Linked DNA regions of Homo sapiens. The protein of the gene in region 1 interacts with the protein of each later gene in a pairwise test. Each region holds a gene or a part of one and is shown in the gene's direction. Other genes may lie near its edges.

The links.
Region 2: the proteins of CYGB (region 1) and AKR7A2 interact in binary tests that used the Homo sapiens proteins (3 or more experiments, as listed by UniProt).
Region 3: the proteins of CYGB (region 1) and LRATD1 interact in binary tests that used the Homo sapiens proteins (3 or more experiments, as listed by UniProt).
Region 4: the proteins of CYGB (region 1) and ARHGAP8 interact in binary tests that used the Homo sapiens proteins (3 or more experiments, as listed by UniProt).

The regions. Positions count from the first base shown.
Region 1 is NC_000017.11:76,534,693-76,542,435, reverse strand, and holds the start of CYGB (cytoglobin), read left to right. Parts: upstream 1-4,726; 5' UTR 4,727-4,893; coding exon 4,894-5,036; intron 5,037-7,743. Other genes in the region: photoreceptor disk component PRCD, read right to left, coding at 1,863-1,931, 2,221-2,294. UniProt on the Homo sapiens protein: Probable multifunctional globin with a hexacoordinated heme iron required for the catalysis of various reactions depending on redox condition of the cell as well as oxygen availability.
Region 2 is NC_000001.11:19,303,441-19,309,144, reverse strand, and holds the end of AKR7A2 (aflatoxin B1 aldehyde reductase member 2), read left to right. Parts: intron 1-502; coding exon 503-690; intron 691-882; coding exon 883-987; intron 988-1,734; coding exon 1,735-1,831; intron 1,832-2,043; coding exon 2,044-2,143; intron 2,144-2,997; coding exon 2,998-3,127; intron 3,128-3,796; exon of another isoform or gene 3,797-3,934; intron 3,935-4,758; coding exon 4,759-4,920; 3' UTR 4,921-5,180; downstream 5,181-5,704. UniProt on the Homo sapiens protein: Catalyzes the NADPH-dependent reduction of succinic semialdehyde to gamma-hydroxybutyrate. May have an important role in producing the neuromodulator gamma-hydroxybutyrate (GHB). Has broad substrate specificity.
Region 3 is NC_000002.12:14,628,031-14,635,723, forward strand, and holds the start of LRATD1 (protein LRATD1), read left to right. Parts: upstream 1-4,686; 5' UTR 4,687-4,907; intron 4,908-5,555; exon of another isoform or gene 5,556-5,798; intron 5,799-5,913; 5' UTR 5,914-5,949; coding exon 5,950-6,828; 3' UTR 6,829-7,693. UniProt on the Homo sapiens protein: May play a role in cell morphology and motility.
Region 4 is NC_000022.11:44,748,569-44,755,595, forward strand, and holds the start of ARHGAP8 (rho GTPase-activating protein 8), read left to right. Parts: upstream 1-4,006; 5' UTR 4,007-4,059; intron 4,060-7,027.

The DNA.
Region 1 (7,743 bases):
CCACCTAAGGAATCAGTTGGCATTTAGGACAGTGTGACTGGAGAGTAGAAATGTCACCCCCACTGCCAGCCTTCCACGGCAGCCACCATCGGCAGGTGGTTCCTCGATGTCAGACCAATTTTTCCAGTTAACTGGGTCCCAAGGAGTTAATAGGCAACTGCTTCCTTCTGGCTAAGTCACGCCAGGCCAGGCCTGGCCAGATGGTCCTCAGATTTGGCCTTTTCTCTCCTGCCAGGAGGTCCAGGCCCATTTCATGTAGAAGAGACCCTGCCTGGAATCGGGCCTGAGCATCCCGCATTAGCCACAAATGAGATAGATGATCTGGAGCAAGCCACCTAAATCTCCCTGTCCCTCAGTTTCCACAACCATTAACCAAAGATTAAAAACACATGTCCTGCCAATCCTCTGGGGTTACTGAGCCTCCCGAGTGACTTAATAGGTAGGAAACCTCTGGAGAAAACTAAAGCACAGGTCCCGAGCATGAAACAAGACAGCTGCTAGCATTTATGGAGCAATCACTCTGCACCCTCACCAAAACCTCACAACCACTGTTATTAATCCTAGTTTACATATAAATAAACTGATTGCATAAATTTCCCCCATAGTCTTTCCATTAGTAAGAGGGAAGCCAGAATTTAAATTCTCCCTGCCCAACTCTAGACCCGGGCTCAATAGCGTGGACCACCCAGCATTTGAGGGCCTCCTATCGGGGGAGGCCCAGGGGTGGTCATTGTAGCTGATTTAACTAGTGATATCAATTAGGCACTATTATGATGATGCCAGCTGGCCTATCGAGTTGAGGTGTCGCAGAAATGCCTCCGCTTCCTGTACAGGCCCAGGGCTTCCCATTGGGCCTTCTGATCATCAGAATCTCAGGACTCAGAATCCCAGGACTCAGACGACAGGAGACAGAAAGACGGAAGTTCTCTCGGTTGCCAGTTTCCGCATATCTAAGGGACACATTGCTGGCAGGTCCCCACTCAGAAAGAGACATGGATGGTCACAGTACCCGCCACCTGAGTCTTCCCTGTGTGGAGACACCCTCCTGCCAGTGCGCCCTGACCCAAAGATGTCATCGGATCTTTTTTACTCTTTGTTTCACTGGGAGCAAAAAAGTCACTCTTCAGACAGGTCTCCCACGCTAGGTGAGTCCATAGGCACAGAAGGAACCCCTCATGCATGGGAACTTCATAAAGATTTGCTGATTTTTTCCAGTGTTTGGTTGGGATAGGCGCCCCTATCATCGAACGACACTGGTCACCCAGGGAAGGAAAAGTCTGGAAGTTCCCCCAACTTCACCCCCTAAAGACCACATGGCTCCAGCCTAGGGAAGAGTTAACTTTCTGGCCACTGGAGACAGCGTCCTGCCCGCAGGGTCTGCCCAGCCAATGGCACTCTATGCTGATGATGTCATGCTCCTCCCGCGCCTTCTATTGGGGACTGGACAGCGAATCCTGCTGGAGGCTCAGGCAGCCTAGCTGAGGCAGGGCGGGGGCAGAGGAGGAGGAGGGGGAAGGGCAAGGAAAGGCGAGCAAAGCCACACAGAGCTACTCCTGCCTCATCCCTCCTTCCACTCCCCTGTGCCTTCTGACAGAAGGTGCCCCGGGGGACCGCCCCGTGCTGGAGATGAGAGGCACAGCGGCTTTGGTCCAGAGGAGCGAGCTGAGGGTTCCCATTCCCAACCGCAGAAAACAGACATCCAGCCTGCCCAGCAGGCGGACAGGGAGCAGGGTGCTTAGGGCAAGGGCCAGGATACGGTGCACGCACAGGCGCGCACAGGCACACACGTGCACCCCCAGGCATGCACAGCCACAGCTTCCTTGGCAGCACCCTCCCTCCCCCAGCCCAGACTCCTGCCTTACCTGCCTGAGGACTGAGGGTCCGCATCCAAGCTGCTGCCCCTAGCTGCCCCATCCACGTCGCTGGGCTCTCTGTGGGAGGCAAGAGTAGGGAGGAAGAGCTATGGCTGTGCCCAGCCCCTCACTGTCCCTCCACAGGTCCAGGCCGCATTGGGCTATGGGAGTAGAGGCTGCAACTAGAGCCTTTGAAGCTCTAAGTCCCCCTGCTCTGAGACTGTGCTCTCTCAAGGGTTCCTCAAAATGCCCTCCCAGCCCCGCTGAAGGTTCACGCAGCCCCTGCCCACCTTCAGCTTGGTGGCAGCCCAGCCCCATGCCCCCCCCCCCCGACCAACCGCCAGCCATAGCCCGGTCAGTTTCTCACGGTTGGACTCGGTTGGCAAATCGGCGGCGCCAGAGCATGGCCAGGGTGCTGAGCAGGAAAAGGGTGGTGCACATGGCGCAGCTGCCCCATCCCCTCCCAGGCCAAGTCTGCAGAAGGCCACAGGCGAGGGGCCAAAATGGCCCCAGCCAGCTCTCAGGAGCCACTGCCGTCTGTCCTGCGGTTCCTGCTGGGGATGGATTAGGAGGCTCAAGCTGATTAGTGGGTCAGCGGCCCCGACCTTGTGAGGACTGATTAAGCTCACTGGGCCCAGGTTCTCCCCTCCAGCGGTAGGGTCAAGGCATGCACTGTGGCATTGAGCACGTATTCGGAGTCTCGATCTGATGAGACTGGGCCTTGCTTGCAAGGAGCTGCCACTCTAAACAAATGTGCTGTCAAGTACAATGACTGCAGTAGAGTGACCCAGGAGTTATTCAAGGCGCCTACAGGGCACTTTCAGAGTTGCAGGCATCAGGGCAACGTTTAAAGAGGAGCAAGGGCCTCTGAATTTGCAGTGCACAAGGCAGGATGAGCCCTCAGACAGAAGACGCTGCCGAAGCTACTGACATGAAAGCATGGAGCATCTGCCAGTAACTGCAAGGTGAATGGAGGTGAAGCAATGATGTCACCGTGGAAGCATCAGGAGAGGAGGAAGAAAGGGGAGGAATATTGGATAATGAAGCCAGAGAGACGGGAGACTCAACAGTGAAGGGCTGGCAGTTTTACCCTCTGGACAATCCTCTCCAAACTTTTCTGATTACACGCCCTCTTCAGTAAAAGGCAGAATTCAAGTGTGCACTCACAAAATAGACAGGTGCAGCCACTTACAAATTATATGCTAGACTACTGTACAGATTCATTCCTACACCATACGACTATATTACATTTGCAAAGGATGAGATGAAAAGAAATAGTTACACGATTTCTCCTATTTTCTTTCCACATCCCAAGGGGACCTGTTGGGCAGCCACTTGGTCACACCAACTTTGAGAAGCTGTTCAGTGTGTGTGTGGAGCATGGAGCCAGCCATGGCCACGCTGAGACATGGGTCTGGGAGTGGTGTGAGAACCTGAACCCACCCGCTCCCCTCCAGCCCCTCCAAGACCCCCAGGAGGCATTAGATTTTCATTCCCTCAACAAGGGGGAGACAGTGTCAGAGGCACTGCCTCAGGGTCCCCCAGGCACCTGAACCCTGAGCTCCCAGGAGGGGCCCAGGCTGCAGCTGAGGCTGGCCAGGGTGAGTTCTCCTCGCCTCCCCCGGACCTTAAAGTCGGATTTTAAGAATAAATACATGAACCATAGTGAAAGCGCAGAGCCAACCCTTAGCAATGCTTGGGCAATGGGACATCAAGTCTTGAGCGAGGACAGGGGTCGCCGGGAGCCTGAGTGACATCTCTTCCCAACACTGCCAGGCCCTGTCTGGCCTCAGGCTGTCCCCAGGACTGAGCAGCCGCTGCAGGGCAGGCACCATGGGATTCTCCCCCCACCTCTGGCCCAATCTCACACTGCCCTGGATAGGGCCCACCAGGAGGAAGGATTTGCCTCCCCCAGGCCCGGAATCGGGCCCTTGGTGGCGGCTGAGATGTCCCCAGCAGCCTGCGCCTTCCTCAAGACTTTTTGTCTGCCAGGTCCTGTCTGCCCTATCCGGTGCCTCTCTGGACTTCCTCCGCCACCAGCTGGGCTAGAATTCAGGGCAGCGGCTGGTTCTTGCCTGTCCGTGTCATTCATAAGCCACGGGGGACTTCTGGCCGCCGCCGCCGCGTTCGTGCACCGAGGGCATGGAGGTGCTGGGCGGAAGGAGAGGGGGCGCAGGCCTCTGGCGCCCGAGGTCGGAGGTGCGCTCAAGTTCCGACAGCCGGGGCGGTGGGCGGGCAGGGGGACGACCCCCGTGCTAACCCCCCAGAGCCTGGGCGTCCAGAGCCGTGGGAGTGGCGCCGCGGCCCCCAGCGGCTGGCTCGGGGGCGCGGGGAGAGGCCCGGGCGAGGGGAGCCCAGCTAGGTCCACGGCGGCCGCCGGAGGGGCTCCTGTTCGCCCCCACGGGCGGGCTGGCGGTCGGCCTCGCCGCGAAAGCTCGGGAGTGTTGGACTTTGAGTCAGTTCCCCGCCGCGGGAAGGGTCCGCACGCGCACACTCGCGACGCCGCAAGCACTGGGACCCGGAACCCAGCGCTCCCGGCCCGCGCCCGCCCCAGCGCACTCCTGTGCGGCCCGCGCCGCCCAGCGCCGCGTGACCGCCCATTCCTCCCGGGACCCCCAGCGCCCCGGCCACACCTACCCGAGCCCCGCCCCGCGGTGCAACTCCGCCGTGGCCTGCGGGTGGGCGGGCGGCAGTCGCGTCGCCCCCACCCCGCGCAGCCTTCACCTTGCCGGCATTGGCTCTTACCCACACGGGGCTGGGGGTTTGGAGCGGATTTGTTTTTTTAAACATTTTCCAGCAGACCACATCCCCGCCCCACCGCTGGCTGTCCCCCGCCCCCCGCACATATACCCTGCACACACGCACGCACACACACACACACACCCGGCGCGCACAGACACACGCTCCCTCCCTCCGCGCTCTACCCCTCGCCCGCCCGCCGCGCACGCAGCCGGCCCCGGCTCCCGGCGCCCCGCGCCCCGCGCCCCGCGCCCCGCCACCGCCGCCGCCGAGCAAAGCCGGGCTGGGCTTGGAGCTGCTCATGGAGAAAGTGCCAGGCGAGATGGAGATCGAGCGCAGGGAGCGGAGCGAGGAGCTGTCCGAGGCGGAGAGGAAGGCGGTGCAGGCTATGTGGGCCCGGCTCTATGCCAACTGCGAGGACGTGGGGGTGGCCATCCTGGTGAGGTAGGTGTCGCCCGGCCCGGCCGGGCCCTGGGCAGGGAGGGCGGCAGCGGCTCCGGGCAGAGGAGGGCTGGGCCCGGGTCCGAGCTCCAGCGCCACCTCCCCAGCCGCGAATGGGGCCGGTCCGAGGTCGGCGGAGCAGGCGGCGTGGGGCGCCTTGGGGTGAACGAAGCCTGGGTTGAGCCTTCCCTGGCTCCGGCGCGGTGTTCACCAGGATCTAGGAACCAGATGCAGGAGAGCACCTCGGTCCCCCTCCTCTCCCCGGCCTCAGAACTCCTTGCTCGGCCAGCCACCCCAGACACCCAGCCAAACTGTCAGACACACACATTTTTCTGGCCTTTCAAAGGTAGTATAGCAGGGGCTCCCCATTTTAGAGATGGGAAAACCGAGGCTCAGCCAAGAAGCGGGACAAAGAGGAGCAGAACCCTGTCTCCAGCTCAGCGGCTTGCGGGATTCAAAGCCTCTTGGAAGAACAGAGAGCAAAGAGCAGAGGTTGAGAAAGAGGAGAGCCCGGGGGGTCCAGTGTTCCCAGCTGCCCCCTTCCCGCTGGAGGGCACGGGCCAGCAGGAGCGCCCAGGGCAGGCACAGGTGAGTGGAGAAGCAAACAGTCCCCTAGGATACAATCCCTGCTGAGTTTGGAGGGTGAGGGGAAGAAGAGAGAAGCTTCAGGAGACAGGGCCTAACCCTAAAACCTCCCACCTAGGGAGGAAATGCAGTGGCTTGGGCTTAGGGGTCATTCAGGCACTACATGCCCCCAAGAGACCCACAAACACAGAGCGCCCCGTTCTTCACACACCTAGGCTTAGAGCACACACACCATCCTTATAGAGGTGATGTGTCCAAGTCTCGAAAGCTAGTCACTGACTCTAGCTACAAATCCATGCTCTCTTTCCACACGTGCTGGTCCCTGGGGGTGCAGGCAGAGGAGCCCCAGACCATGCTCACCCTCAAGCCCCTCTTCTTGGCAGAGGAAAGCGGTCAAATCTAGGACAGAGCAGGGCAGCCTTGTCATGTGCAGATGGGGTGAAGCCTCGCTCTGGAAGGGCAGCTTTAGTGCATCCTTGACTACCAGGCCTGCTCCATCTCCAGCTTCTTCTCCCTGTGGCCTCTCCCAAGCCTGGGACCGACCCAGCTCCACCATGATATGCCCTGATTCCAACTCAGAAGCAGATTTTGGAGGAAAAAGAGCAGGAAGCACTTCTAAGGAGTTAGAGGAGCGCTCCTGAGGATGGGGCAGCTATCTCAGCAGCCCCCAAGCCCAGAAACACAGTCGGGAGTGGCAGGAAGCTAAGAGGGACATTGGGATACTAGGGCCTCAGACGCTCGGAACCACCAATCCCCACAGGTGCTGGCACCCACACAAGCACATTGTGGGTAGCAGAGCCGCAGATGTGCCAGACTGCGTCCTCGGAGGGTGCCGTCAGCCGTGTGTCAGCACCTGCAGCCCACCGGCCTTGCATGCGTCTGGCACACTCATGGGTCACCATGAAGAAGCGAGGCAGGGTCCTCAGGACCTTGGAGGTTTTGTGTCCCAACCCCTGCCAGGTACCTGTGCGGATACGTGGAGGAAGTGCTCACCGTCCACATCATGGAACACCATTGAACCTCCCCAGGAAGGGGACCAGGGTAGGGCAGATGCCAAGGGAGAAACGAAACACCGAGGCCAGGGCCATGTCTGGGCAGTCCGAGTTTTCAGCAAGGATTTCTTTCTCTCTCTACACCCCTCTTCCAGTTCCCCACTCCTGTCTCTTAGAGGGGCCTGGGCCTGGGCTGGGGGAGGTCATTACCAATGCACTCAGTGCCCAGAGTAACCCCTCACCACTCTGACTCCACTTCTTTGTGGACTAGAGCCCAGCCCCAGGACAGCCTGGCCCAGCTTTGTCTCAGCCACTCCCTGCCAGCCCAAGCCCCACAGGGCCTTGCTTTCCTTTTTCTCTCCTCCTGTCTCTGTCCAGGGCCTGGTCAGTGGGGGAAGGGGAAGAAAGGGGGATAAGGGCTCCTGAAGGTCCCTTCTCAGATCCTGGGCCCGTCAGTCTTGACACAGCACCCTGTCTTCCCACACACAACATACACATCCTCAAGGTCAAGACCCCAGCTGCAGCCCTCTGGCCAGCACTCTCACCTCTGCCCTCCCCACTGCGCCAGGCCAGCACCCTCAGCCCTTATGAGCCTGCAGGGCAGGAAGGAGGCAGCTGCACTTCCACACCCCCAACCTGGAGAAGTTGCCACATTGGTGGGGGTGGAGGAGGCGTTGCTTTAGAGCCTGAGGCAGACCCCACACTTCCATTCCCTGCCAGGGAGGAGACCAAGAGGGAACACCCACCCTCCCTGCTGGTTGTAACTCTGACACCTTCCTCCTCACACTCAGACAGGCCTATTTCAGGCTCTCTTGGAAGCCCAGATGCCTCTGGGAGCTGAGAAACTCCCCAGGGCTGGCTGTGGAGGCTCCTCCCTGGCAGCACAGGCTGAGACCGGGAGGGTCTCAGGTGGAAACACCGCAGAGCCAGGAGGAAGGAGCCAGGCACATGGGCCCCAGGGGCCACAGAACCGTGGAGGGTCTGGGTGGGGACTCCCTGAGACTGTCATTCCTCAGGGCCACAACCCGGTGGTGGGTGTTGAGGCAGGAGACACCTGGTTACCAGGCCACGATCCCCTGGCACAGCTGTCTCTCCAGGCAGTGTAGGGAAACTGTCAAAGCGGGCCTGCCTGG
Region 2 (5,704 bases), on another chromosome or scaffold:
CCTCTTTGACTTTGCATGGGTTCCCATGCTCTGGAGTGTACTTCCTGCTCTTCCTTGTTGGCTGGGACTCTGGGAGTGATCCCCTAGAGAAAGCCTTCCCTGGAGTCTCCAAGTTGGCTTCATGCATCTCATCTGGGCTCCTTGGCATCGTGTGCCTTTCCCTCCTGTGCTTACCATATTGTACCATCATCCTCTAGGGCTCCAGGAGGGCAGAGATCCATTGTGTTCAGTTCATCTCTGCATACTCAGTCTCTAGTGCAAGGCCTGGCACAGCCAGCAGGTTGGTGACTAATGATAGTTATTCTAATAGGTGAACATTGAGAACTCACATATATGACATTATTTAATCCCCAGGACCTCCCAATGAGGACAGTTTGATTATTATCACCCCATTTTACAGATCATACAATTGAGGCCAAGAGAATATTAGTAATTTAGCCAGGGTTACATGGTTAGCAAATGGCTCTAATAGGTCACTTAACCATTCCATTCTCTCTCCAAGTGAAAATTGCCACCAAGGCCAACCCTTGGGATGGAAAATCACTAAAGCCTGACAGTGTCCGGTCCCAGCTGGAGACGTCATTGAAGAGGCTGCAGTGTCCCCAAGTGGACCTCTTCTACCTACACGCACCTGACCACGGCACCCCGGTGGAAGAGACGCTGCATGCCTGCCAGCGGCTGCACCAGGAGGTGAGGGGGCCCTCCGAGCTCCAAAGGTGGGCTCCTGCTCCTTTCTTTATCCTGATCCTACTCATGAGAGCAGAGGCACCAGGGCAGTCCCAGGGTGGGGCAGGGAATAGCCCCATTCCCTGGGGCCCCACCCTGGCCTCCCCTTCCTGGTCTGGGCTACACTGCGTTCTGACTGGAGCCTCACCCATGCAGGGCAAGTTCGTGGAGCTTGGCCTCTCCAACTATGCTAGCTGGGAAGTGGCCGAGATCTGTACCCTCTGCAAGAGCAATGGCTGGATCCTGCCCACTGTGTACCAGGTGAGGGCCGGGGCTGCAGAGGCCAAGGTCTCCAGGACTCCTGCTAATCCTGGGCTCTCTTTGCCCCCCTGACTGCCCCCTGTGCCGTCTGCATAGCAGCCACTCCCCTGCTGAAAGCCTGCAGATGGCTCCCATGTACCCTCAGGATGCCATTCAAGCTCCTCAGCCTGGCCACTGGGCATCTGCTTCCTTCCTGCCTATCTGTGCACCTTGGACCCTTCCTTCCCCACCTCCTTTCATACTTCAGCCTGGAACACATTTCCCCTGCCCTCCTCCCTGGGAGAAGCACTCAGGCCTTACATAGAGGTCTCCTCCTCTGGAAGCCTTTCTAGACAGCCCCATAGGAGTCTCCAGTCTCCAAATCTCATCTTCATACATTCAGCGAGTACTTTCCAGCTCCTTGTTTGATTGTAGAACCTAACTTTATTGTAATTAACTGCCTTCCTTGTCTATTTTTTTAAACTTGAGTAAACATCTCCTGGAAGCAGGGATTTTGTGATACCTACTTGTGGTTGTAACCAGTGTCCAGCATGGAGTTCATACAGCAGATATTTGTGGAAAGATACCATTCCACTTCAATTTTCTGTCCTTGGGCCCAACACCTTCCCTCCATCCCCTACTAACAGTAGTGATGTTAGAATATTGCTGAAGTCCTGGGCCGGTGTTGCTTTAGAGGTTTGAAAGTGGAAGGCAACAGTTCCTTCTCTTGACATGTCCACCCTGTCCCCGGGGTCCCTCTCCCTGCAGGGCATGTACAACGCCACCACCCGGCAGGTGGAAACGGAGCTCTTCCCCTGCCTCAGGCACTTTGGACTGAGGTTCTATGCCTACAACCCTCTGGCTGGTACGTGGAGCATTCCTGACCCTGTCTCAGCCTATTCCTGACCCACAGATGCCCAGCCCAGAATTTATGAAGCAGGGAGGGTTTGACAAGAGGCTGGGCTGTGTTCTTCAGCCCCTCCTGGGTCCCTGCCCCTCCCCTAGACCAGAGCCCTGAGGGATGTGGCAGCTTCTGGGGCACTCTGGGGCCAGGGGCTGATTGCTGCCTTCCCGCAGGGGGCCTGCTGACTGGCAAGTACAAGTATGAGGACAAGGACGGGAAACAGCCTGTGGGCCGCTTCTTTGGGAATAGCTGGGCTGAGACCTACAGGAATCGGTGAGCCGGGGGTGGGCTTGGTGAGGATGGCTGGGGTGGGGTCAAATCTATGTGGAATGAAGTCCTGGGCTGTTCCTGAGGTAAGACCTTCCTTTGCTGTTTGCATCTCCTCCCCTGCATTGCTTCAGGAATTCCCAAGCCCTCTGTGGGTTTTCTTGTTGTCTTGAGACCTCTGGGGGGGAAATGAGGATCCCTGGATGTTGGGGTCTTGAAGTCATAGCTCGTTCCTGAGCAATCACCTGCTGGGAAGCAAAAAGCGAGCCCAGGATGGGCCAGGCATGGTGGCTCACACCTGTAATCCCAGCACTTTGGGACACCGAAGTGGGAGGGTTACTTGAGCTCATGAGTTCAAGACCAGCCTGGGCAACATGGTCTCTACAAAAAAAAAATGCAAAAAAGTGGTCAGGTGTGGTGGTGCACACCTGTCTGTAGCCCAGCTACTTGGAAGGCTGAGGCAGGAGGATTACTTGAGTCTAAGAGGTTGAGGCTGCAGTGAGCCATAATGATGCCACTGCACTCCAGTGTAGGCAACAGAGTAAGACCATGTATCAAAAAGCAAAAAGAGAGCCCAGGAGGGAATCCTGCCCCATCTGAGCAGCCTTCGTGTCCCTAGGGAAGTCCCTAGGCTACTGAGTCCTCAGGAGTAAAGATCCATTGAGGTCTCTGCTGAGGGGCCCAGCATCCTGGGTGGTTCTGATGCCCAGCAAAGTGGGAGACCTATGACTAGAGAGGACACCCGCCCCTCAGGGCTGCAGGGTGTGGGGTGGGGCAGTGGTCCTGGATGGCTATTTGGTTGCGGCTCCCAGTGTGACCCCCATGGTACTGACCCCTGTGCTAACATCCCCTCTGCACAGCTTCTGGAAGGAGCACCACTTCGAGGCCATTGCGTTGGTGGAGAAGGCCCTGCAGGCCGCATATGGCGCCAGCGCCCCCAGTGTGACCTCGGCTGCCCTCCGGTGGATGTACCACCACTCACAGCTGCAGGTAACCAGCGACCCTGGGTGCTCAGCTTCTTCCCTTCCAGGGGGACCAGCGTCACCTTTAGGTGAAGCCCAAAGCATTTGATTTCTGAATTCCTCTGAAATTTTTCTTTCTTCCAATTCTCATAAGCACTCTTCCCACTGGTCTTTGATGGTATCTGAGTGGAGGCTTTGTAGTGAGGGATTTTCATTACAGGGATTTTCTTATTCCTTAGGCTTTCTGAAGTATGATTATCCCAGTGTTATTGATGAGGAAACCGAGGTTCACCCAGCTATTAAAGTGGCAGACATTTTAACACAGGTTTAACTAAGACCCACCCATCTCACCCTTTTGGTTTCTCTCTCTTGATGCCTCATGTCTTCCTGGTTAAAACTTATTTCCTGATCAGTGGCAGTGACCCACACCTGTAATCCAGCACTTTGGGAGGCCGAGATGGGAGGATTGCTTGATCTCAAGCATTTGAGTCTAGCCTGGGCAAGAAAATGGGACCCTATCTCTACAACAAATCAAAAACATTAGCCAGGTTGTGATGGCTTGCTCCTACGTTCCCAGCTACTCTGGAGGCTGGGATGGGAAGATGGCTTGAGCCTGGGAGGTCAAGGCTGCAGTGAGCTGAGATTACACCACTGCACCTTAGCCTGGGTGACAAAGCAAGACCCTGTCTAAAAAAAACAAGCAAACAACAATGAAAATAACAGCAACAAACTTATCTCCAGCTTCAGCCTTCCATGTTGCATAGTGTCTGGCATATATCCGGTAGATGTTCAGTACGTGGGAGCTGTGTTTTACATAAGTTTTCTCATTCCAATGCTGAAAACAGAGAAAAAGATTGAATGTCATGCCTGCATCGACAGCACATATACTAAAATTGGAATGATACAGAGAAGATTAGTATGGCCCCTGCGCAAGGATGACACGCAAATTTGTGAAGTGTTCCATATTTTTCCGCTGCCACCACCACACCGCACTACCTCCCACCCCCTTTTGTGTACAAAACACAAGGAAAAATATTTTTGTTTGAAAAAAAAAAAGATCGAATGTCAAAACAAGCTTAATAACGTAGCCTGCTTTTTAATTTTTTTGAGACAGAGTCTCACTCTGTTACCCAGGCGGTAGAACAGCAGCACACTCATAGCTCACTGCAACCTCAACCTCCTGGGCTCAAGTGATCCTTCTGCCTCAGCCTCCCTAGTAGCTGGGACAAGGCATGCACCATCACCCCTGGCTAATTTTGTTTTGTTGTTTTTTGTAGAGACAGAGTCTCTCTCTGTTGCCCAGGCTGGTCTTGAACACTTTGGCTCAAGTGTTCTTCCCACCTTGACCTCCCAAAGTGCTGGGATTGCAGGCATGAGCCTCTGTGCCCAGCCAACTTAGCCATTTTTACACAGCTGCTGGGGGCAGAACTGGGCTGTGAATGTAGTTCTGTGTGGAAGCGTCGTGCGGCAGTAGGGGAAAGGATGCGGGTTTCAAGTCACGTGGGTACAGCTATCCAAGGCACCTTAAGTCCTTTCTGGACATACAAGATATAAATATAAACAGAGACCCCAGATCTCAGCAGGGAGGTGGCTGGGACGGCTGTGAGTGGAGTCGCTGTGCAGCAGAAGAGGGTTGAAGTCTGGCCGTCTCCCTTGCAGGGTGCCCACGGGGACGCGGTCATCCTGGGCATGTCCAGCCTGGAGCAGCTGGAGCAGAACTTGGCAGCAACAGAGGAAGGGCCCCTGGAGCCGGCTGTCGTGGATGCCTTTAATCAAGCCTGGCATTTGGTTGCTCACGAATGTCCCAACTACTTCCGCTAGGCCCATCATGGCTCAGGCTGCCCAAGGCTTTTCTGTCACCTCTTTTGTTCTCTCACACTGACCAGTCTTGGCCTTAAGCTGACTTAGAAGGGTTTTTCTGAATTGTCTAGATCCATGCATTATTTTTCTAGCTTCCTGCCTTGCTCCCTATTCACTTTACACTGTGAAAGGTGGGGGGTGAGTCCCACTTGAGCGCTTCCTGTTGAATAAAGCAGGCACTTGACCTGGCTGTAGCCTAGGTCTTGAGTGAACCCCAAAAACTTGCTTTCTCTGCTGTTAACACTTTGTTTCCCATCCTACCTGGGGACTGAGAAAGGGCAGAACCATGGGCTGGAGTCTTCAGAGGGCAGAGGTAGTAGGAGGGTCACAGAAGCACACTGCCCTCCCAGGGTCTCCTCGGGCCCCTGGTCTGAATACCCACCTGACCTCTCAACATTGAGGTGTCTCTCACTCTTCTACACACGATAGAAAAGAGAGTCATACACCTGCAGTACATTTTCTCTAATTCAGAGTTGCCTCAATACATTCTTAGGAATGAAACAACTGGGACAAAGAAACTACCATTAGAGTCACTACCAAGAAGAAGAACACTTCCCAGGATCTGTGGAACATCTTGAAGCTCTCAATCTTAGCCTCCTCTTGTCTTAACTAAAGCCTCTTGTCTTTTCACCCATTAGGTTCTCAGTCTTGGCTCTGGGCCTCCTGTTCGGCATGGGGACAGACATAGGCAGCCAAGGTCCTCATTTCCCTTGGAAACCCCTACTCCAAACAGGAGGCACCAAGG
Region 3 (7,693 bases), on another chromosome or scaffold:
CCATGCCTACCCAGGAAAGTTCAACCATCACTCATATGGGGAAGTGGGCCCAAACAAAAGGCATGAACTATCCTAAAATTGGGAGAGAACACAGAGAAAAATGAATGCTAGGTGAAGATATCTTTGTATAATCCACAAAAAAATAAAATATTAAACCAATTAGTGCTAAAGGTTTTACCCAGGGAGCATTCATGAGTCTTTAATGGTTCGCTGATAAGAAGCCACAAAAGACACTTTAATATGAACACTCAGTTATGGGAAGGAAATTAGAGAACATGGAAATGTGGAAGCCAAACTTGGAAATGGGCACTGAAGAGGAAATTGATAGCCAGAGTGTCAATGCATGCATGCGGGTTAAGGGAAGCAGGATACCAGCTGCAAGAAGTTTACTGGGAGGGGTTTCCCACGCCATTGTTGTGGTCTACAAAAGTAGAAAGCAGGTAAGATGTTCAGAGAGCTGGGTAAGTTAGTCACATGGAAGCTGTGAAAATTTCTAGAACAAATAGTAGGGAGATATGGGGTAGTACCTAGAGGGGAGAGAAGTGTTCATTAGTGATTTCTTTACATTCTAGGTGATGTGAACCTGCTGAAATGCTGCAGGGATTTCAGGCAAGTTAGCCTTGGCAGTGAGAACAGATACAAAGAGAGAAGGAGGTAGGAGGTGTGTGTGGGGACGGGGGAAGTGGGGGAGATTTTTATTGTTCTGAGATAGGTCTAAAATGAAGGACAGTATATCAGTCAGTACAGGCTAACTGCTATAATAAATAACCACACAATTTTGGAGTGGCTTAACCCAAGAAGATTTATTTCTTCACAGTCCAATGCAGTTTTCTTGGGAGGGGAAATTATCAGCTCTACACAGTCATTCAGGAGCTCCGGCCTTCTTCCATCTAGTGGCTCCTCCATCTCTTAGATCCTAGGAGTCCTACCATGAATCCTCTACAAATGGCCAAATTGGCAAAAGAAAGCTCTGGAAGATTGTGTTAATAATAGTTTCAGTTTCAGGAGCTTTCAGGAGCGGCACCTGGGAGTGGCTTATTCTACTTCCACCCACATTCCATTTGCCAGAACTCAGTCACAGGGCATGGGGCAAATGACTGCAGGCATGCTGGGACTTGTCATTTAGCTGGGTGCCCAGAAGGAAGGGAAATGGGATTGGTGAAGCCATATAACCATCTCTAATCCAGATGGACACAGAGTATTCTTTAGCTCAGACCAGGGTGAGTATGTTAACTGCCTAAGGCAGTGAAGGACAGGAGATGGAACAGTTCATTTCATTAAAGGATAAAGTGGGGCATATAATTTTCCTGAACCCTTACTCCAAGCTCCAAGGCCAATTTTAAAGGATGACAGTTTGAGCCAAGGACCTGTTCAGTAAAATTTGGAGTAAAGCTTTTCAAATAGTGCCAAAGAAGCAACCAAAAACAAAAAAAAAAAAAGAGAGAGAGAGGATACATCAGATGGCACCAGCAGAAAAGATCACATACATTTGATTGACTCCTAATCACTCCCCTGTAACTTTTTTCCCCACACAAATTCCTCACACCGGAAATGTTCATTTAAAACAATTAAAAATCCTTCAGGGAACCCCCACCCCACTCCCTGCTACCACATGATCAGCCCAGGGGCTCACATGCTGAAATCTATAGAGAGCTTTAGGTCTCAGAGTATTTGAAGGATAGGCAGGGATCTCACCACCTTAACACAGAAGCAGTCCTACACCCCAATCAGGGAAAGCCTTGGACACTATCTATTGCTACCTTTAGCCTGGGGCAAAGGAGAAAGAGAACTGCACAGCTGTCCTAAACAAGTAGGGTATGAGACCTCTCTCTTCCACCAAGAATAATAATAAGATAGCCTTGATTGAAAACTCACTGTGCGTCAGACACTATGCTTACATGTATGAACTCACAACAATTCAGTGAGGTAACCACTATTATTATCTCTTTTTTACAGATAAGGAAGTTTCCTGATGCCCACAAAGTTTAAATAACGGACTCGAGGTTACCCAGCAATAAATGTTGAAAAAGAGTTTAAATTAGTTGGCTTTCAGAGTTTGTGTTTTGGACAACTATATTCTACTTTGGACAGCACTGTATTTTCTCATTGTAAAAGCAGGCAGGATGGAGTAAAAAATAAAAGTCAAAACAATTTGAAAACAATATTTTGTGATGAACATAAAACATTTTCTACAATCAGCATCCTTCATTTGATTGTCTTACTTTATTATCTGGTAAGTGCCAAAAGAAGACAAAGTGTAGATGTATTTTCCTTAGTTTACTTTTAGCTCCCTTTATTTCAAGCCTCACAGTCAATGTGTTCCCTGCCTTATGTTTCAAGGGGGCTCCAGGGTATTTTTTCTCCCATGTGATTACAAAAGCAGTTAGCCGTTTAGCCTAGCAGGGGGAATGAGAGGAAACGGAGAGGCCAAAAATTTTAAACTTTAGGCACTATATCTCCAATAACTGACAACATTTTATCTTAATTATGCTTTATAGTATTGGAATACTAAACAAAGAGGAACGACCTGCTTACTCTGTAGTCTGGAGCAGAATGAAATAGAACACGTAGGGCAGAACACAACAAATGAGTTGTAAATGTCTGTGCACAAGGCTTGATCTTGGGGATGGAGGGAGGATATTTTTTAAGTTATTCAAACGCTGAGTTGCTTTCAAAGAGTTCTTCTCAGACATCAACAATGAACTCTTCAGATACCCTCATCCCAGACAGCCCTGAAGTCCAGTTTATAACAAGACCAATAACTCACTCCTTATCTCTAAAGCTACTTGTTCAATTCTCTTGACTTCAGGGCCAAAATGAGTTGTTTATTACTTATGGCAAGTATAAAAAAGGCCATCTCAACCTGTGGTCAGTTCCACGAATGGCAACTTGTTTTCTGATAACTTGCATGCACATGGACAATAGCCAAATTTCCAAAAAGATTTAGGTACATCAATTGTATACCGATGGTCATTTAAAACCATTTTTTCCAGCAATATTTTAGCATCTAATTTGATAAATCACTGCATTTGGAGGCTGTGGGGGTGTACAGAGACCTTCAGAAAGCAAACATAAACTGGAGGCTTGGCGGTTTGAAGATATTCAAGCAGAAAAGTCTAGCAAAGAAAAAGGGGGTTGTAATATGGATCAGTCTCCATGTAACCTTGAGCCAATCATCTAACTTCTCTGAAACACCAGTTTTCTCATTTTATGAAACAAGATTTTATTCAATAAACACTATAACTTAGTGAAAGACTGGATCTGGTATCCCGTAGGCTTGGATGGATTGCTGGTACTAGTATTGGAGCTTTTGTTTCCCTGTTTGTTACAATTCGGATATTAGTGAGTACCCTACAGAGGAATAATGATTAAATTGTCTACTTAATTTACTCTTAAGTGTCTGACCACGTATAAGTGGTCAATACAGGCTGTTTTCATTTTTACTATTACTGATGGAACACACTGCATGACTAGCATTGGGAAAGAGGCCCAGAATACAAGGTTGTGCAGAATGCAAAGTCTATTCTCAAGGAATTCGCTTTGTAGGGAAGAGGTGGGGGGTTCAAATAGGAAGTATCAAATTCCTCATTGGGAAAGAAAAGAGGCTTCATAGAAAAGCTGCTGGAGCCCAGGCTTAAAGATGAGTAGCATTGGGGCCAGAACCAGATGTCTAAGAACTCTTTGAGGCTTAATGTTAGGAACTTTTGAAACTATTGGTCTGGAATGTTGTATATATGAAGTTCATTTTTTCAGCATCCAATATTCAGAACACATTCATTCATTAACTTTCCATCCAGAAATGTAATCATTAACTACTGCTGGAGCCTCCTTTCCCACAAAACCAAACAAAACTTGCTTAGCAATCCCAATTCTGAGGCTTGGAAAACACTTTTACATCCTACTCTCTGCTTGCATGTATGAACTCACATACATGAGTTGTGAGGTACTCCTCCTATATTCAGAAAATTGGAGGCCAATATCATAGGCACAGCCAGGGAATGCACCGGCCAAAGCTCAGGCTTTTGGGTGGCATTTGACACCAAGCTCCTTTTAAATCGGGCATCAGCTCTGGGTCAGCAGCCTCACTCCAGTCAAAGAAGAGGAGCCAAACGTCGCAGGAGCAATTTCAAAGACGTCTGGGGAACGAAAAGGGTCTTCGATCCAAGGACCAGCCTAGGGGCCATCGGGAACCAAGGCTCTGGGGGATCCCAGCAGGGCCCAGACGCCCGCCTCGGGCAATGTCGCTGCCTGCCCCGGGCCGCTCGCAGTGCCTGGGCCATACTGGGGTGCCCTGGGGTTTCTTCTCCATACCCAGACTCAGCTTCCCCGCTGGAGTCTGTCTTCCTGGAACACGGAACGCGGGCGGGCTGTGTTCTCAGTCACAATCAGCTCGGATGAGCTGGGGGGCGCGGGCGCAAGCGGGCATCGGCACCTGGCAGAAAGCGCCGCGCCCCCCGCGGGTGCGCACACCTCCGCTCCCCGGGGCGGCGCGCGGTCGGGTGTGCGGGGTACGGGGCGGGGCGGAGCGGAGCAGAGCAAAGCGCACAGGAGGCCCGCCTCTGCTCCCCTCCCCCGCCGGCGAAGATTGACACAGCTCGAGCACCCGCCCCAACCAATGAGCGCGTCCTGGGGCGGGCCCTGGGACCGGCTGCTCCGGCTACTTAGAGTCGTCGGCGCGGCGGTGGGAAAGCAGAGCCGAGCCGGGACTGTCCAGTGGGAGCAGGCGCCCCGGCCAGCGCAGACCTGGAGGCGCACGGGCGCCGCACCGCACGATTCGGCTCGGGGTAGAGCGGAGCCGCAGCCCCACGCGCAGCCCAGGACCCACTCGCCACCGCCGCTTCCTCAGCACCCATGGGGACCAGGAGACTTTAAAGGAGTTTGGGGTTTCGGGAGCAGGGAAATCACGGGTAGGGAGAAGCGGCTTTCTTTGCCTTGGAAACGGTTTTTCTTCATCCGATTGTTTGGATCCTGTGCTGGGTAGGAGGGAGAGGGGTCTTTGGGCTAAAAGTGAACCTCTCTACACACACACGCTCCCACCCACACCCACACACATACACTGCACTGGCTTTCTCCATCCTTCCCCTGCCTCTTTGTTAGGTTATTTTAGACAGAGCAGCCTCGCCCTGGCGCAGTCCCATTGGCCCTGATGGGGACAAGGCAAGAGAAGTAAGGGGCAGAGTGCACCTGCCTGTGAGGGCAGGTGTGCCCGGGTGCTTGGGCGTACGTGCAACGGCGAGCGTGCAAGCGTGGAGCTGAAATTGTGTACGAATGTGTGGGGTCTAAGTGTGCCAGTGTGTCGTCGCGAAGGTTTGTCATTGTGGGTGTATGTGACATACACCAGTATACCAGGCTGCCAGTGTCTGGACTCCCAAGTGTCCAAAATGTTGCTGGTGTCAAGTGAATGCCTGAGAATGTGTCTGATTGTCATTGTGCGAGCCGCTGTAAGGGGAGGAAGGCAACCTAGTGCAAAACTGGGAGGTGGGCTGGAGAGGGTGGGGACAGAAATGGGAGCTTGCTCCCAGCTCACTGGCCTTAGGCTCCCTTCTCCCTTTCAGCCCACCCCTCGGTCCTTCCTGGGTGTCCGTCTCCCACACTGCCACAGCCAGCACTCTCCTCCCCACCGGGACCCCGCAAGCTCTCCAGCCAGCCTGGGTGTTTTCTTCTGGGAGTTGGACCGAGTTCCCGGAAGGGGTCGGAGGCTGTGTGGTGGCGTCTGCTCTCGCCTGACCTGTGGCGGCTTCTCCGCCCCTCGTACCCCTGGGGAGGCACGGAGGACTCGGCTGGAAAGGGTGACTCCGGTGAGGGCACGTAAGCTAGCCGGCAGGTCCCAGGGGCACTGCACGTCTTGGGGAGGGACACCGAAAGGGGCAGCCCGGACTCTGACGGTGTCTCTGCCTCTCTGTGCCTCCGCAGATCCCCGCTCCTGGCCCTCGCCTCGCCACCTCATTGATGGGCAACCAACTGGACCGCATCACCCACCTCAACTACAGCGAGTTGCCCACAGGGGACCCGTCGGGGATTGAAAAGGACGAACTGCGGGTCGGGGTTGCCTACTTCTTCTCGGATGATGAGGAAGACCTGGACGAACGCGGGCAGCCCGACAAGTTTGGCGTGAAGGCCCCCCCGGGTTGCACCCCCTGCCCGGAGAGCCCCAGCCGCCACCACCACCACCTGCTGCACCAGCTGGTCCTCAACGAGACTCAGTTTTCCGCCTTTCGGGGCCAGGAATGCATCTTTTCCAAAGTGAGCGGTGGCCCTCAGGGCGCCGACCTAAGCGTCTACGCGGTCACCGCGCTGCCAGCGCTCTGCGAACCCGGCGACCTGCTGGAGCTGCTGTGGCTGCAGCCCGCGCCGGAGCCGCCCGCGCCCGCCCCGCACTGGGCCGTCTACGTGGGCGGCGGGCAGATCATCCACCTGCACCAAGGCGAGATCCGCCAGGACAGCCTGTATGAGGCGGGCGCGGCCAACGTGGGCCGGGTGGTGAATAGCTGGTACCGCTACCGCCCGCTGGTGGCCGAGCTGGTGGTGCAGAACGCCTGCGGCCACCTGGGCCTCAAGAGCGAGGAGATCTGCTGGACGAACTCGGAGAGCTTCGCCGCCTGGTGCCGCTTTGGCAAGCGGGAGTTCAAGGCGGGAGGGGAGGTGCCGGCAGGCACGCAGCCCCCGCAGCAGCAGTACTATCTCAAGGTGCACCTGGGAGAGAACAAGGTCCACACCGCCAGGTTTCACAGCCTGGAAGACCTCATCCGCGAGAAGCGCCGTATCGACGCCAGCGGCCGCCTGCGAGTGCTCCAGGAGCTCGCCGACCTCGTGGACGACAAGGAGTAGCCGCCTAGGGGCTGCCGGCCCCTCTGCCTCCCCCGCACCTCGCTCCCTTCCCTTCCCCGCACCCGGACTTCGCAGTCAGCGGTTCTCAACCTCTGCCCCGCCCCGCCACGCGCGTCCGCCGCCGGTGGCCCGGGCCCGGGCTGCACCCCCGCATCCCCAAGCCAGCGGCAGGAAGTCTCAGGAACTGCCCCAGGGCCGAAAGGGCGCCGCTGCGAGCGCCTGGCTGACAGCCACAGCGGTGGTGACGGTGCTGGGAGACCCCGCGTGCGCTTTCCCCTTGAGATGTAAACCGGGAACGGGGAAGGGGCTGAGGGGAGAAAGGACATGGCCTTCCCCGCGAGTCCATGGCCAGTGACTGTGGCCCGACTCGAAAACAACCCTCTTCTCAAAAGGGACCATCACCGCCCCGAGCGTGCGCACACAGACCGGTCGGAGGCGAGAACTGGTCTCTACAGGGCACAGTTCAGCTCCTCTGTGGATGCGTCCCCAGATCGCAGGATTTCCAAGAAATCGAGCCTGTCCCTTGTGCACTTGGGAATAATTCCCCAAGACAGCACTTCGGGATTCCGGGTTATCCTGAGGCTGCCCGGGACTTTTCCAGCTCTCCAGCCCCAGGTCTCCTGACATTGTGTTCCAGGCTGCGGGCTAAGCCAGACAGTGTTTGCCTCCGGTTCTTTCCACCGTGGGAAGCGAACGCCACCCCCACCCGCCTTTGCCTGCGAGTCTCCCTCGCTGGCAGAAGGGAAGCCGGCCCGGTCCCGGGAGGAAGATGGCGCTGCGAATTCGGTGAGGACAGCCGGCCCCGCCCCCGACAAGGAGCTCGCTCGTTCACCTGGTGTCTGGGAACTTGAATGTGTGAAGGGCG
Region 4 (7,027 bases), on another chromosome or scaffold:
TCAGCCATGAACCCAGCCATGGTTGAGGAAAAGATCTCTTTTTATCCGCAACACCAGCACTCCCCATGTGCCAGGCTTTGTCATCAGGGCTTGGAGAGAGAGAAAGAGAGGGCACAATAAGCCCCAGCCATCCAGGCAAAGTCCAGTTACTCTGACCTGAACTGCTCACTGTGGCCGGAGGAAGGCCTGGGGTGACTGGCACAGGCCCAGTTCCTTCCAGAACCTGAAATAATCATTGTGGCAGGGAGTCGTTGATCCAAAGGAAAAAACCGAGGCAAAATCAATACAAGTAAGAGTATATTTGGGGGCTGGGCGCGGTGGCTCAGACCTGTAATCCCAGCACTTTGGGAGGCCGAGGCAGGCAGATCACCTGAGGTCTGGAGTTCGAGACCGGCCTGACCAACATGGAGAAACCCCGTCTCTACCAAAAATACAAAATTAGCTGGGCGTGATGGCGCATGCCTGTAATCCCAGCTACTTGGGAGGCTGAGACAGGAGAATCACTTGGACCCAGGAGGCGGAGGTTGCAGTGAGCCGAGATCACGCCATTGCACTCCAGCCTGGGCAACAAGAGCGAAACTCTGTCTCAAAAAAAAAAAAAAAAAAAAAGAATATATTTGGGTCAAGTTTGAGGACTGCAACCTGGGAGTATACATTCAAGTTGCCCTGAATATTCACTGTGATTAGCAACAGTTACAAGTAGGTTTTTGAAGGAAAAGAAGAGGCAGTTCCTAAATTGTTTACCAAGAATTTACATTAAAATAACATAAATTGGCTAGGTGCAGTGACTCATGCCTGTAATCCCAGCACTTTGGGAGGCCAAGGTGGGTGGATCACCTGAGGTCAGGAGTTCAAGACCAGCCTGGACAACATGGTGAAACCCTGTCTCTACTAAAAATACAAAATTAGCCGAGCATGGTGGCGGGTGCCTGTAATCCCAGCTACTTGAGAGCCTGAGGCAGGATAATTGCTTGAACCCGGCAGGCAGAGGTTGCAGTGAGCCAAGATTGAGCCATTGCACTCCAGCCTGGGCAACAAGAGCGAAACTCTGTCTCAAAAAAAAACAAAAACAAACAAACAAAAAAAAAGTAAATTGTTCTAAAGAGCTTCTGCATAGCAAAAAGAAACTATCAACAGAGTAAACAGACAATCTATAGAATGAGAGAAAATATTTGCAAACTATGCAGCTGACAAAGGACTAATATACAGAAACAATAAGGAACTTAAATGAATCAACAAGAATAAAATAATCCTATTAAAAAGTGGGCAAGGGGCCAGGCACGGTGGCTCATGCCTGTAATCCTAGCGCTTTGGGAGGCCCAGGCAGGCAGATCCCTTGAGGTCAGAAGTTTGAGACCAGCCTGGCCAACATGGTAAACCCCATCTCTACTACAAGTACAAAAATTAGCTGAGTGTGGTACCGTGTGTCTGTAATCACAGCCACTTGGGAGGCTGAGGCAGGAGAATTGCTTGAACCCAGGGGAGGAGGTTGCAGTGAGCCGAGATGGCGCCACTGCACTCCAGCCTAGGTGACAGGGCAAGACTCTGTCTCAAAAAAAACAAAGAACAAAAGACATGAACAGACACTTCTCAAAAGAAGACATACACGCATACAAGCAGCCAACAAACATGAAAAAATGCCCAACATCACTAATCATCAGAGAAATGCAAATCAAAACCACGAGGAGAAACCATTTCACATCAGTCAATGGCTATTATTATTATTATTTTTTCTGCCAGCATCTTGATTTTGGACAGAATGGCTGTTATTAAAAAGTCAAAAAATAGGAGATATTGGCAAGGCTGCAAAGAATGGGGAATACTTATACACTGTTGGTGGGAATGTAAATTAGTTCAGCCACTGTGGAAAGCAGCTTGGAGATTTCTCAAAGAACTTAAAATAGAACTACCCTTCAACCCAGCAATCCCGTTAGTGGGTACACACCCAAAAGAAAAGAAATCTTTCTACCAAAAAGCCATCTGCACTCATATGTGCATAGCAGCACTATTCACTATAGGTTAGATATGGGGTCAACTGAGGTGCCCATCAATAGTGGATTGGATAAAGAAAATGTGGTACATTTCCAACATGGAATACTATGCAGTCATGAAAAAGAATGAAATCTTGTCCTTTGCAGCAACATAGATGCAGCTGGAAGCCATTATCCTAAGTGAATTCATGCAGAAACAGAAAACCAAATATGACATGTCTCACTTCTAAGGGGGAGCTAAACCTTGGGTACCCACAGATATAAAGATGGGAACAAAAGACATTGGGGACTCCAGAAGGGTGGGGGGAGTAGGGCAAGGGCTGAAAAACTTCCTATTGGGTACTGTGCTCACTACCTGGGTAAGGAGATCAACAGAAAACCAAACCTCAGTGTCACCCAATATATCCCCTAACAAACCTGCACATGTACCCCTTGAATCTAAAATAAAAATAAAAATAATAAGTTGTTGATTGGCTACACATTTTTCTCTGTATCACAAGTTGCAGGAACATGCAGATAATGGGTGAGGCAGTGAGTCAGGAACAAAATGCCTTTAAACCATGGCCCCCACGGCCGGGTGCGGTAGCTCATGCCTGTAATCCCAGCACTTTGGGAGGCCGAGGTGAGTGGATCACTTGAGGTCAGGAGTTCAAGACTAGCCTGGCAAACATGGTGAAACCCCGTCTCTACCAAAAATACAAAAAATTAGCTGGACATGGTGGCAGGCCCCTGTAATCCCAGCTACTTGGGAGGCTGAGGCAGGAGAATTGCCTGAACCCAGGAGGTGGAGGTTGCAGTGAGCTGAGATCGCGCCATTGCACTCTCAGCCTGGGTAACAAAGCAAGACTCTAAAAACAAAAACAAAAAACAAACAAACAAACAAAAAACTATGGCCCCCCAAGCACTGCAGGGGGACCTGGACTGAAGTCCTATACTACTGTTTCTCTGGGCCTGATATATTTTGTTGTATCTAAGCTGCTTTCCTCAGATACAAATCCTTCAACAAACCCTAGGGAAAATTTCCTCTCAAGTCCCTCCAATTCTCCCAGTTCTGCCACGCTTTGTACACCCCTAACGAAAGGGGCCAGGTGCAGTAGCTCAGGCACGTAATCCCAACACTTTGAGAGGCTGAGGAGGGTGGATCACTTGAGCCCAGGAGTTCCAGACCAGCCTGGACAACATGGCAAGACTCCTGTCTCTACAAAAACTACAAAAATTAGCTGGGTATGGTGGTGCACACCTGCGGTCCCAGCTACTCGGGAAGCTGAGGCCGGAGGATCGCCTGAATCCAGGAGGTAGAGGCTGCAGTGAACCAAGTTCAAGACACTGCACTCCAGCCTGAACAGAGCGAGACCCCTGTCTCAAAAAAGTAAAATTAAAAATGGGGCCCGGCGCAGTGGCTCACGCCTGTAATTTCAACACTTTGGGAGGTGGAGGCGGGAGGATCGTTTGAGGTTGGGAGTTCGAGACCAGCCTGGCCAACATGGTGAAACCCGGTCTCCACTAAAAATACAAAACTTAGCCGGGCTTGGCGGCGCACGTCTGTAATCCCATCTACTATGAAGGCTGAGGTGGGAGGATCGCTTGAACTCGGGAGGTTGAAGCTGCAGTAAGCCGAGATCGCGCCACTGCACTCCAGCCTGGGCGACAGCGCGAGACTCCGTCTCAAAATAAATAAATAAATACATACATACATAAAGTAAAATAATGAATAAATAAAATAAGAAATGGGGAAATGGATCAGCAAGAAAGTGCCCGCCCCAGGCATGGGTGCCGTGCGGGACGGGGACGCGGCCCAGCCGGGAATCGGGGTGCCCAGGGTGCGATGTGCGAGGGGCTCCTGAGCGCGTGTGCTCCGCCCGACCCCGCCCTGTCCCCCCGACACACAGGTGGACCCAGGGTCAGCTCGTGCACCTGGGAAATGGCTCCCGCCGGGTAGCAGGGGCGGAGGGGCGGGGCTGGGCGGAGGGGCGGGGGGGCGGGGCCTGCCCGGGAGCCACGTCCGGGGAGGGGCCAGGTGAGCGGCAGACCCGGCACGCAGGTGGGGGCCGGCGGGGTCCGTGGCCAGGTAAGGCGGGCGGCGGCGGGAGGGAGCGCGCAGGGAGGAGGCCGTGCTCGGGGTGGGGGGGTGCGCCGCGGGGGCTCCCAGGGCGTGTACGGGGACAAGGGGCCGCTGGCCGGGTAGGGACGCCCAGGCGGGCGCGACGCCACGTGCGGCCGGGGGGAGACCCTCCGGCCGGCGCGCAGCCTCCGGGTCCCCTGTGGGTTCTAGACTCCCTCTCCCTTCACCTCCTTTCTTTCCCGCCCCCCCACACTCCCCTCCTCTGCTTTTTCCCCTGTCCTGTTCCTTCTCACCCCGCACCGCCTTCCCCGCCCTCGCCTCTCTCAGCCTGCGTTTTGGTCTGGTCTGGCCGGACGGTGTCAGCTCAAATGTTCCTTTTTTGCTTCCGTCCTGGGGTCTCAGGTTAGGTCGGGTCAGCGCCTGGGGGAGGCACCTCCCCCGCCCCCACACACCCCAAACCTACAAGGTGGGTGAGGTCATTCCCGTTTCATAGATGAGAAAACGGAGGCCGGGGCAGGTGCTGCGCTGATTCAAACTCAGGGGGTGGGGGGCTGGCCGGTTCAACACACAGCGGTGGAACCCCCCGGGAGTTAAAAGCAGAAACTTTTTTTTTTTTTTTTGACACCGAGTCTTGCTCTGTCCCCAGGCTGGATTGCAGTGTTGCATCTCTGCTCACTGCAACCTCCGCCTCCTGGGTTCAAGCGATTCTTGTGCCTCAGCCTCCCGAGTAGCTGGGATTACAGGGACTGACACCATGCCAGCTAATTTTTTGTATTTTTAGTACAGACAGGGTTTCACCATGTTGTCCAGGCTGGTCTCGACCACCTGACCTCAGGTGATCCGTCTTCCTGGGCCTCCCAAAGTGCTGGGATTACAGTCGTGAGACACCGCGCCCGGCCTAAAAGCCCAAAGTTTAAACCAATCCGCTAGCAGCCTCGGAGGTCGTCAGGAAGGCAGGGAGGCCCTGCCTTTCACTTTCCCTCAATCCTGTGGGGGGTGGGGGGGCTCCTGAGAATCCCTCGGGCTCTGCCACACCCTGACTTGGAAATTTCTCCGCTGCCTTGGGAGGAGTGTGAAGGCCCCGGAGAAGGAACCGCAGAGTCCACCCGGGAAGGAGGGTGGGATTGTTTGGCGGGATGGGGACAGCACCTTGGCCACCGACTTCAGGGTTTTGTGACAGAGGCTGTGTAGATTCCAGAGAGCTCTGTGCCGTCCCTCGCTTGCCTGTGAAATGCAGTGTTGGCATTTGTCCAGCTGAGAACTCAATGCTTAAGACTCAGCCGTTTCAGAAGTCGATGTCCTTTGGTTGGCCTCTCTGTTGGCAGCTTTAGGATCATGTTTGTGGACTCCTCATTCGATTCACTGACTAACCATTCCCCAAACCAACGCCAGAGTTGGGGGTAGGGCGAAGAGGGACATGGGATGTGGGCCTGAGCCCAGCTGATTCTTGTGGACAGCCAGCTGCCTGGTCCCTGCCCTCAGGGGCCCAGAGTCTGGCTTCTGTGTAGAGAGAATCCAAGGGTTTGTGGGAGCTTAGGAAGGGCTTCCTGGAGGAGGTGGCCATTGAGCTGGAAGGTGGATGGGAGGTGGATGGGGAAGAGAATGGCACCTACTGGCTAGGGATACTTCGCTTGTGAGGTACGGGTGGAAAAGTCCATGGAGTGCCTGACGGGGTGGGCCAATTTACTTGGATAACATCATTGGGTCATTGAAACTTTGTGTGTGTGTGTGTGTGTGTGTGTGTGTGTGTGTGACGCAGTTTTCGCTCTTGTCGCCCAGGCTGGAGTGCAATGGCACGATCTCAGCTCACTGCAACCTCTGCCTCCTTGGTTCAAGTGCTTCTCGTGCCTCAGCATCCAGAGTAGCTAGGATTACAGGCGCCCACCACCACACCCAGCTAATTTTTGTATTTTTAGTAGAAGTGGGGTTTCACCATGTTAGGCAGGCTGGTCTCAAACTCCTGACCTCAGACGATTTGTCTGCCTTGGCCTTCCAAAGTGCTTGGAGTGCTGGGATTACAGGCATGAGCCACCACACCCGGCCGAGTCATTGAAACTTACTTGACTTAAACATGCCTGGGACATCATGCCATCTGCCTAACAAGCCAGTTCTAGGCTGAGCTATTCATGGGCACACTGTAAACGATGGAGTTAAAGGCGGCTTCGGTTAAAGAGACGAGAGCAAGGAACTCAGGTCCTGGAGGTGCCTGACAGTATGTTTCACCACATTAAAAAAAACCCATCCCATTCCCTGATTTTACCCTCATTTCACTGATAGGGAAACTGAGGCACAGGCAGCATGAGGGTGAGAAAGAGATGGAGAAGGAGTCAGCAGACCTGGTTTTTAGGCAGGTCACTCTCCTTCTGGGGCACTCAGCCTCCTCATCTGCAAAAGGAGCTATTGGCTGTCCTTCCCCACTGCGATGGTGGTCACCAAATGGCCATGAAACCCTCACTGCACACTTGGCTGCCTGACTCCTTGCTCACATCAGGAGGCACGGACTGTTACTGCCCCGTTCACAGATGAGGAAACAGACAAGGAAGGTTAAGGTCCCATGGCTAGTGATTAGAGAGCCAGGCTTGGAAGCCAGCGGTGCTGCAGCTACAGTGTTCCCCGTGTCCCCACCTTCCTCCCACACACACTGTGCTGAGCCACCTCCCTGGGCACTGAGGTGTGCCTCCCACATGGGAGCTGGTGTCTGGTGTAAGATGGAGCCATTCGGAGCCTGCCGGTGACTACCCTTCAAATCTATGTGAAATTAGCATGGGGAGAGAAAATAGACGTTTTCCATTTCTTTCCAAATTATTTAACTTTTACCCCTTGGTCCTTTAATTAAAACTGATGCTCAAGGAAGATGCATCACGTGTGTCCAGATGCTTCCCAGGCCTCCCTGGGGTGCATTTGAGGGGAGAGCCTCTGGGCCCTGCACTGTGGGACTTAGCTGCAGGAGAGCGCGCTGCTCCGGAGTCCTGCC